Linked DNA regions of Homo sapiens. The protein of the gene in region 2 purifies or fractionates together with the protein of the main gene of each other region. This does not show direct contact. Each region holds a gene or a part of one and is shown on either strand. Other genes may lie near its edges.

The links. The genes of interacting proteins can lie anywhere in the genome.
Region 1: the proteins of ALDH5A1 (region 2) and ADI1 fractionate together in Homo sapiens (co-fractionation; one large-scale study listed by BioGRID). This does not show direct contact.

Annotation. Positions count from the first base shown.
Region 1 is NC_000002.12:3,509,500-3,513,146, forward strand, and holds part of ADI1 (acireductone dioxygenase), read right to left. Parts: intron 1-3,647. UniProt on the Homo sapiens protein: Catalyzes 2 different reactions between oxygen and the acireductone 1,2-dihydroxy-3-keto-5-methylthiopentene (DHK-MTPene) depending upon the metal bound in the active site.
Region 2 is NC_000006.12:24,493,490-24,497,236, forward strand, and holds the start of ALDH5A1 (succinate-semialdehyde dehydrogenase, mitochondrial isoform 2 precursor), read left to right. Parts: upstream 1-1,507; coding exon 1,508-1,861; intron 1,862-3,747. Other genes in the region: GPLD1 (phosphatidylinositol-glycan-specific phospholipase D), read right to left, coding at 1,478-1,521. UniProt on the Homo sapiens protein: Catalyzes one step in the degradation of the inhibitory neurotransmitter gamma-aminobutyric acid (GABA).

The sequences.
Region 1 (3,647 bases), on a different chromosome or scaffold from region 2:
ATTAGAAACAAATAAAAAAATCTAGAAAAATCCTCAAATAATTGGAAACTAACAAATATCTAAAAACAAAACAAAACATCCACACAAGTCAAAGATAAAATTAAAAAGTAAATTAATTAGAATGTATTTAAAATGAAATGAAAATAAAAAGTATATCGAAATTATCAAAAGTTGTGTGAAGCCACTAAAGCAGTACTCTGGGGAAAATTTACAGCACTAAACCCCCGTACTAAGGAAAGAAAAACAACACTCTGCGAGGCCGAGGAGGGAGGATCACTTGAGGCCAGGAGTTCAAGACCAACCTGAACAACCTGGTGAGATTCCAACGCTACAAAAAATTAAAAAAAAAAAAAAATTAGGCAGGCCGGGTGCGGTGGCTCATGCCTGTAATCCCAGCACTTTGGGAGGCCAAGACAGGAGGATCACCTGAGATCAGGAGTTTGAGACCAGCCTGACCAACATGGAGAAACCCCGTATCTACTAAAAATACAAAATTAGCTGGACATGGTGGCGTATGTCTGTAATCCCAGCTACTCAGGAGGCTGAGGCAGGAGAATTGCTTGAACCCAGGAGGCGGAGGTTGCGGAGAGCCGAGATTGTGCCATTGCACTCCAGCCTGGGCAACAAGAGCGGAACTCTGTCTCAAAAAAAAAAAAAAAAAAAAAATTAGCCTGGCATGGTGGCACATACCTGTAGTCCTAGCTACTCAGGAGGCCGAAGTGGGAGGACTGCTTAAGCCTAGGCATTCAAGACTGCAGTGAGCTATGATTGCACCACTGCACTTTAGCCTGGGTGGCAGAGCAAAGTAATAATAATAATAATGTCTGTTTCTAGAATAATAATAATAATAATGACAAAGAAAGAACTCAAATCAGTGACTTCAGCTTCCAACTAGGGAACTTAGAAAAAAGAGCAAATTAAAACATGTAAAAGAAGACAAATTATAAATGTCAGAGCAGAATCCAATGAAACAAAAAATAGAAAAAGAGAAAAATCAATGAAACCTAAAGTTTTTTGAGAGGATCAATACAATTGATAAGCCTCTATCCAGACTCAGGAAAGGGAGAAAAAACACAAATTATCAGTATCAGGAATGAGAGAAGACAGCACTACATACTCTACAGATATTAAAAGGATAATAGAAAATATTCCAAATATTTTTATGGCAATAAATTTGACAACTCAAATGAAATGGACAAATGCCTTGAGAGAAACAAACAAATAATGCTCATTCAAGAAAAAATGGGTTACCTGAATAGCCCTACATCTAGTAAAGAAGTTGAACTCACAGTTAAAAACCTTCCCACAAAGAAAACTACAAGGCCAGATGGCTTCACTGGTGAATCTCCAAACATAAGGAAAGAATAATACTATCTACACATACTCTTCCAAGAAACTGAACAGGAGGGACTACTTTCCAGCTCATTTTATGAGATCAGAATTACTCTGATATGAAATCCAAACTAAAACATTGATATAGTTTGGCAATATGTCCCCAACCAAATCTCATGTTAAATCGTAATTCTCAGTGTTGGAGATGGGGCCTGGTGGGAGGTGACTGGATCACGGGAATGGATTTCTCATGAATGGTTCAGCGCCACTCCCTTGGTGCTGTCTTCACCACAGTGAGTGACTTCTCACAAGATCTGGCTATTTAAAACTGGGTGGCACTTCATTCTCTCTCTTGTTCCCATTCCTGTTATGTGAGATGCCTGCTCCCACTTTGCCTTCTGCCATGACTGTAAGCTTCCTGAGGCCTCTCTAGAAGCAGATGGTGGTGCCAGGAAGCAGATGTTTCCTGTACAGCCTGAAGAACTGAGATGCAATTAAACCTTTTTCTTATAATTTACTTCTAAATTACACAGTAACTTCTTGTGAGATCTGGTCATTTAAAACAGTGTGGCACCTTGCTCTCTCTTTCATTCCCACTCCTGTTATGTAAGATGCCTGCTCCCTCTTTGCCTTCTGCCATGACTGTAAGCTTCCTGAGGCCTCCCCAGAAGCAGATGGTGGTGACAGGAAGCACATGCTTCCTGTAGAGCCTGCAGATTATAAATTTTCTTATAAATTACACAGTCTCAGATATTTCTTTATAGCAATGCAAGAACAACCTAATACAGAAAAAATGGTACCAAGGAGTGGGGCATTGCTATAAAGATACCTGAAAATATGGAAGCAGCTTTGGAATTGAGTAACACGCAGAGACTAGAAGTGTGTAGAAGGCTCAGAAGGAGACAGGAAGATGAGGGAAAGTTTGGAACTTTTTAGAGACTGGTTAACTCATTGTGACCAAAATGCTGATAGTCATACAGACAATAAAGTCCAGGCTAATGAGGTCTCAGATGGAAATGAGGAATTTATCGGGAACTGGAACAAACATCACACGTTTGCCTCAGCAAAGAACTTGGCTGCATTCTGTACATGCCCTAGGGATCTGCGGAAGTTTGAACTTGAGAGTGATGCCTAGGGTATATGGTAGAAGAAATTTCTAAGCACCAAAGTGTTCAAGATGTTTCCTGCCTGTTTCTAACAGCCTATGCGCAGATGCAAGGGCAAAGGAATGACCTGAAGTTGGAACTTATATTTAAAAGGGAAGCAGAGCAGAAAAGTTTGGAAAATTTGCAACTTGGCCACATGGCAAAGAAAGAAAAAGTTTTTGAGAGAGGATTTCAAGCAGGCTTGTAGAGCAACGACTTCCTAGAGAAATTCACATAACTACAAAGAAGCCAAGGGCTGACAGCCAAGACAATGGGGAAAAAACCTCAAAGGCATTTCAGAGACCTCTTCCTAGAGAAATCAGCATAACTTCAAACACAGCCAAGGCAATGGGGAAAAAACCTCAGAGGCATTTCAGAGACCTTTCAGCAGCCCCTCCCATCACAGAGCCAGAGGTCTAAAAGGAGAGAATGGTTTCATGGGTCAGGCCCAGAGCCCCTCTGCCCTACAGAGCCTCAGGACACTGCTCCCTGCATCCCAGCTGCTCGGGTTCTGCTAGGGTTCTGGCCTCAGATCAAAAGGGCCCAGGTACAGCTTGGGCCACAGCTCCAGAGGGTGCAAGCCATGAGCCTTTGTGGCTTCCATGTGTTATTAAGCCTGTGAGTGCACAGAGTGCAAGGGTTGAGGCTTGGGATTCTCCACCTAGATTTCAGAGAATGTATGGAAAAGCCTGGGTGTCTAGGCAGAAGTCTGTTGCAGGGTAGAAACCCTCATGGAGAACCTCTACTATGACAGTGCAGAGGGGAAATGTGGGATTGAAGCCCCCTCACAAAGTCCCCACTGGGGCACTGCCTAGGAGCTGTGGGAAGAGAACCACCATCCTGCAGACCCAAGAATGATAGATTCACTGGCAGCTTGCACCCTGCACCTGCAAAAGCTATAGGCACTCAAAGCCATCCCATGAGAGCAACCTCAGGAGCCCCTGCAAAGCCACAGGGACAGAGCTGCCTAAGGCCTTGGGAGCCCATTCCTTGCACCAGTGTGCCCTAGATGTGGGACATGGAGTCAAAGGGTATTATTTTGGAGCTTTAAGATTTAGTGGCTGCCCTGCTGAGTTTTGAACTTTCATGGGTCCTGTAGCTCCTTTCTTTTGACCAATTTCCCCCTTTTGGAATGAGAATATTTACCTAATGCCTTTACCCGCTTTGTAT
Region 2 (3,747 bases):
CAAACAAAAAACAAAAACCACCACCAAAAACAAAACAAAACAAAAACAAAAACTCCCTCCGCAGGCAGGAGATGTAAACACGCCAGCTCCCCAGCCCCACCTGTGATACCTACTGGCCCACATCCCTATTAGGACTCCCTGGTTCTCCCCAGTTCCTGCAATAAAATACAGAGCAAAATAGTGTGAAATTGATTAAACTCTACTGTTATCACTTCTGCCATATGTGACTGGCTCAAAACTCAATGGATCTGACTCAGCAAAAGACAAAGTCAAAATTTAAAGTTACTGCCTCGGCATTTTGCAAATGTCCTAGAAAAAAATTCAACGTCCTAGAAAAAGGTGAAAGCTAGCAAGATACTCTCAACGCTGTAGGAGTTGAGAAAGGGAGATATGTAACCTAAAATCAATGCATAGGGCTGGGCTTCATTTGCACCCACAAATTCCCAGCATACGCCTGCTATTTTTATTTTTATCCTCATTAGGTTTTAAGCTTCCCTGCTGCTTTCAGAGTCTTAAGCCCAAGTCTAATTTTTTAACGGATGAAGAATGCTGTTTAAAGGTGCTCAAATACCTTGGTTGGATAGTATGCTCAATCCTTATACCTTGGTTGATTCAATTTTGACAAATGCTTCCATTTACTAGTTGGTGACCCAACTTTAATCTTACTAGTGGCTTGACTAGGGTAGCTAGTATGACTTTGAACGCTATATTGAATTTAATGTGGCAACTGTAATGAGCATTTTACGTTATCTCACAACAAAATGGGGTAGATATGGTTCTATTTTATAAGTGACTGGACTAAGGTTAACCTGTCGGTCACACAGCTTGTCGGCAACAGACTTGAGTTTGGATCCTAGTCTGTTTATTTCCAAAGCGCTGTTATTTATCGGGAGCAACCCTAGGAGAATGCCTAGACACACACCCAAAAAAGCAGCCAGGCAGCAGAACGCGGGGTCACACTTCGACCCCTCAGAGAACGATCGCTCCCAATCAATACTACGTGCTCAGGAGCTACAACTGAAGAAGCGTGATCACGGCCTTGGCATTTAGGGCAGGCACCAGCGCATCTATGGACCGCGCACAAATTCCGGGGATGCCGAATTTGGGGGATGCTAAGGGGAGAGAGTGGGTCTCTAGCAGCGATTGGGGGCTCAGGAGCAGTTAGTGACAAATGAGCACCCGAAAAGTGAAAAGGTGACAGCAGTCCGCAGGTGCATCTACTGGCGAGCCTTCTCCATCCCCGAACCCAACCCTCCCCCGGGAGAAGGTCGCGCCAGGAGAGAAGCCGCGCGGCGCTTAGGGCAAGGTGCAGAGGGCGGCGCGGCGGTGCAGCGAGAAAGACGCGGAGAGAGGGCGCTGCTCTGTGGCTCTGCAACCTTCCGCCAGCTCCCACGCTTTCCCCGCGCGTCCCCGGCGCCTCCTCGCTCCTCTTGCTTCCCCGCGACCCCTGCGTTCCCGTGCGCGCGCGCCCGCTTGCCTGTTTCCTGTCGCCGTCGTTGCCCGGGCCATGGCGACCTGCATTTGGCTGCGGAGCTGTGGGGCCCGGCGCCTCGGGTCGACGTTTCCAGGCTGCCGCCTCCGCCCCCGCGCCGGCGGCCTGGTCCCTGCCTCCGGGCCTGCGCCCGGCCCGGCCCAGCTCCGCTGCTACGCTGGGCGCCTGGCGGGCCTCTCTGCGGCGCTGCTGCGCACCGACAGCTTCGTGGGCGGCCGCTGGCTCCCGGCCGCCGCCACCTTCCCCGTGCAAGACCCGGCCAGCGGCGCCGCTCTGGGCATGGTAGCCGACTGCGGGGTGCGAGAGGCCCGCGCCGCCGTGCGCGCTGCCTACGAGGCTTTCTGCCGCTGGAGGGAGGTCTCCGCCAAGGTGAGAGAGCCCGGATGCAGGGGGCCAGAGCTGGCCGGGGACACGGCGGGGAGCAGAGGGGGCTTTACCCCAAAGTGACACCAGCCGCGTCGCCTCCCTCCTGTGCTCAGTTCCCCAGGGTATACAAAGTGGAAAGTCAGAGCAACAAGGGAGACGACCGACAAATAAGTTTGGAGCTTCCACTTTGAGCCGGGCACTAGGGACACGACCCCTGCCCTCAAGCCTCATCAAGTTATGCACTGCCCAGTAGGGGAGGCAGAACGTGAGCGCCTAATACAAGCGAGCTGCTTGTTATGGTCAACAAGCCTAACCGTGGAGGGGCGGGGAGAAAGGGGAGGGGTGTCAGGGAAGTGAGAGCACGTGTGGCCCTTCAGAGTAGCTGAAATATCTCCGCAGCTGCAGGGAGCCCACGCAGGAGGCTGCTTCAGCGGCCCTTGAGAAGGCTGGTAGTGAGGGCCCCTGGCCAGAATCATGGGATCGGAAACGGAGAGAACTGTAGAAAGATTTGGGTTTTGTGCAGGGGAAGAGAGAAATCCAGGAGCGTTCTCCAGGTTTTCACCCTAAATGGATAAATGCTGCTATTGGCCATTGCATAGAGAACACTGGAGAATTGGGAGTAAGGGGTGGAGGGCCATTAAATGGGAAGAATAGAGTAAGAAGAAAACTAAGAAAGTAGTTTCTTCCTTCTAATATTATATTATTAAACCTGGAGTCAACGCAGTGAAATTTTTTACCGTGTCCTTCAAAGCTCTCCCTCTGAAGGAATGCATCCAGCGATCCCTACGAGTACAAGAGAGTCTTAGCACTCATTCATCCATCAGCTGTTTACTGAGCACCTGCTGTATGCCCTGCACTGTTGGAGGTGCTTGGGATACCTCAGTTAAACGAAAGAAGGATTCTGCCCTTATGGAGCTCACATGGGGTGGAAGGGGAGCAGAAGAGAGATCAGAACTCTAAACAACAAACATAATATCTAAGCAAATAAGTATGTGAGAGATGCTGAGTGCAATATGGAAAAAAGGTAGAAGCAGGAGAGGATCCGGGCCAGAGGGAAGGGGCAAGATGCAGCATCAACAGTGTGACCAGGCATATTCCTCTGCTAGGGCTGCCATAGCAAAGTACCACAGACTGGGTGGCCTGAACAACAGACATTTCTCATTTTACCGCTCTGGAGGGTAGAAATCCCAGATCGAGGTGTTGTCAGAGTTGGTTTCTTCTAAGGCCTCTCATTGGCTTGCAGAGAGCTCAGCTTTTGTCTTTGTATCTCATCAGACCTCAATTTTAGACTCATGGAGTCTGAGATGTCTGTTCACGCCCAAGTGAGGATGTAAAGTAAGCAGTTGGTTATATGAATGAATCTTCCCTGTGTGTCTCCACATGGTCTTTCCTCTGTGTGTATATGTGTCCTAATCTCTTCTTCTTTTAAAAACAGGAGTCAGATTGGATTGGGGCCCACCAGAATGACCTCATCATAACTTAATTCCCTTTTTAAAGACCCTATTTCCAAATGCACTCACATTCTGAGATACTGGGGGGTTAGGACTTCGACATGTCAATTTTGCCAGGAGCACCATTCAGCCCGTAACATCAGGGTAGGTCTCATTGAGGACATGAGATACAAAGACCAAAGGAGGTAAGTGTGTCCGGAGTTGGTTCCTGCCGGTAGGTTTGTGGCCTCGCTGACTTCAAAAATGGAGCCGCGGACCTTTGCAGTGAGTGTTACAGCTCTTAAAGATGGCATGGACCCAAAGAATGAGTGGTAGCAACATTTATTGTGAAGAGCAAAAGAAGAAAGCTTCCACAGCGCGGAAGGGGACCCGAGTGGGTTGTCGCTGCTGGGTGGGTGGGGCGTGGTGGCCAGCTTTTTATTCCCTTATTTATCCCTT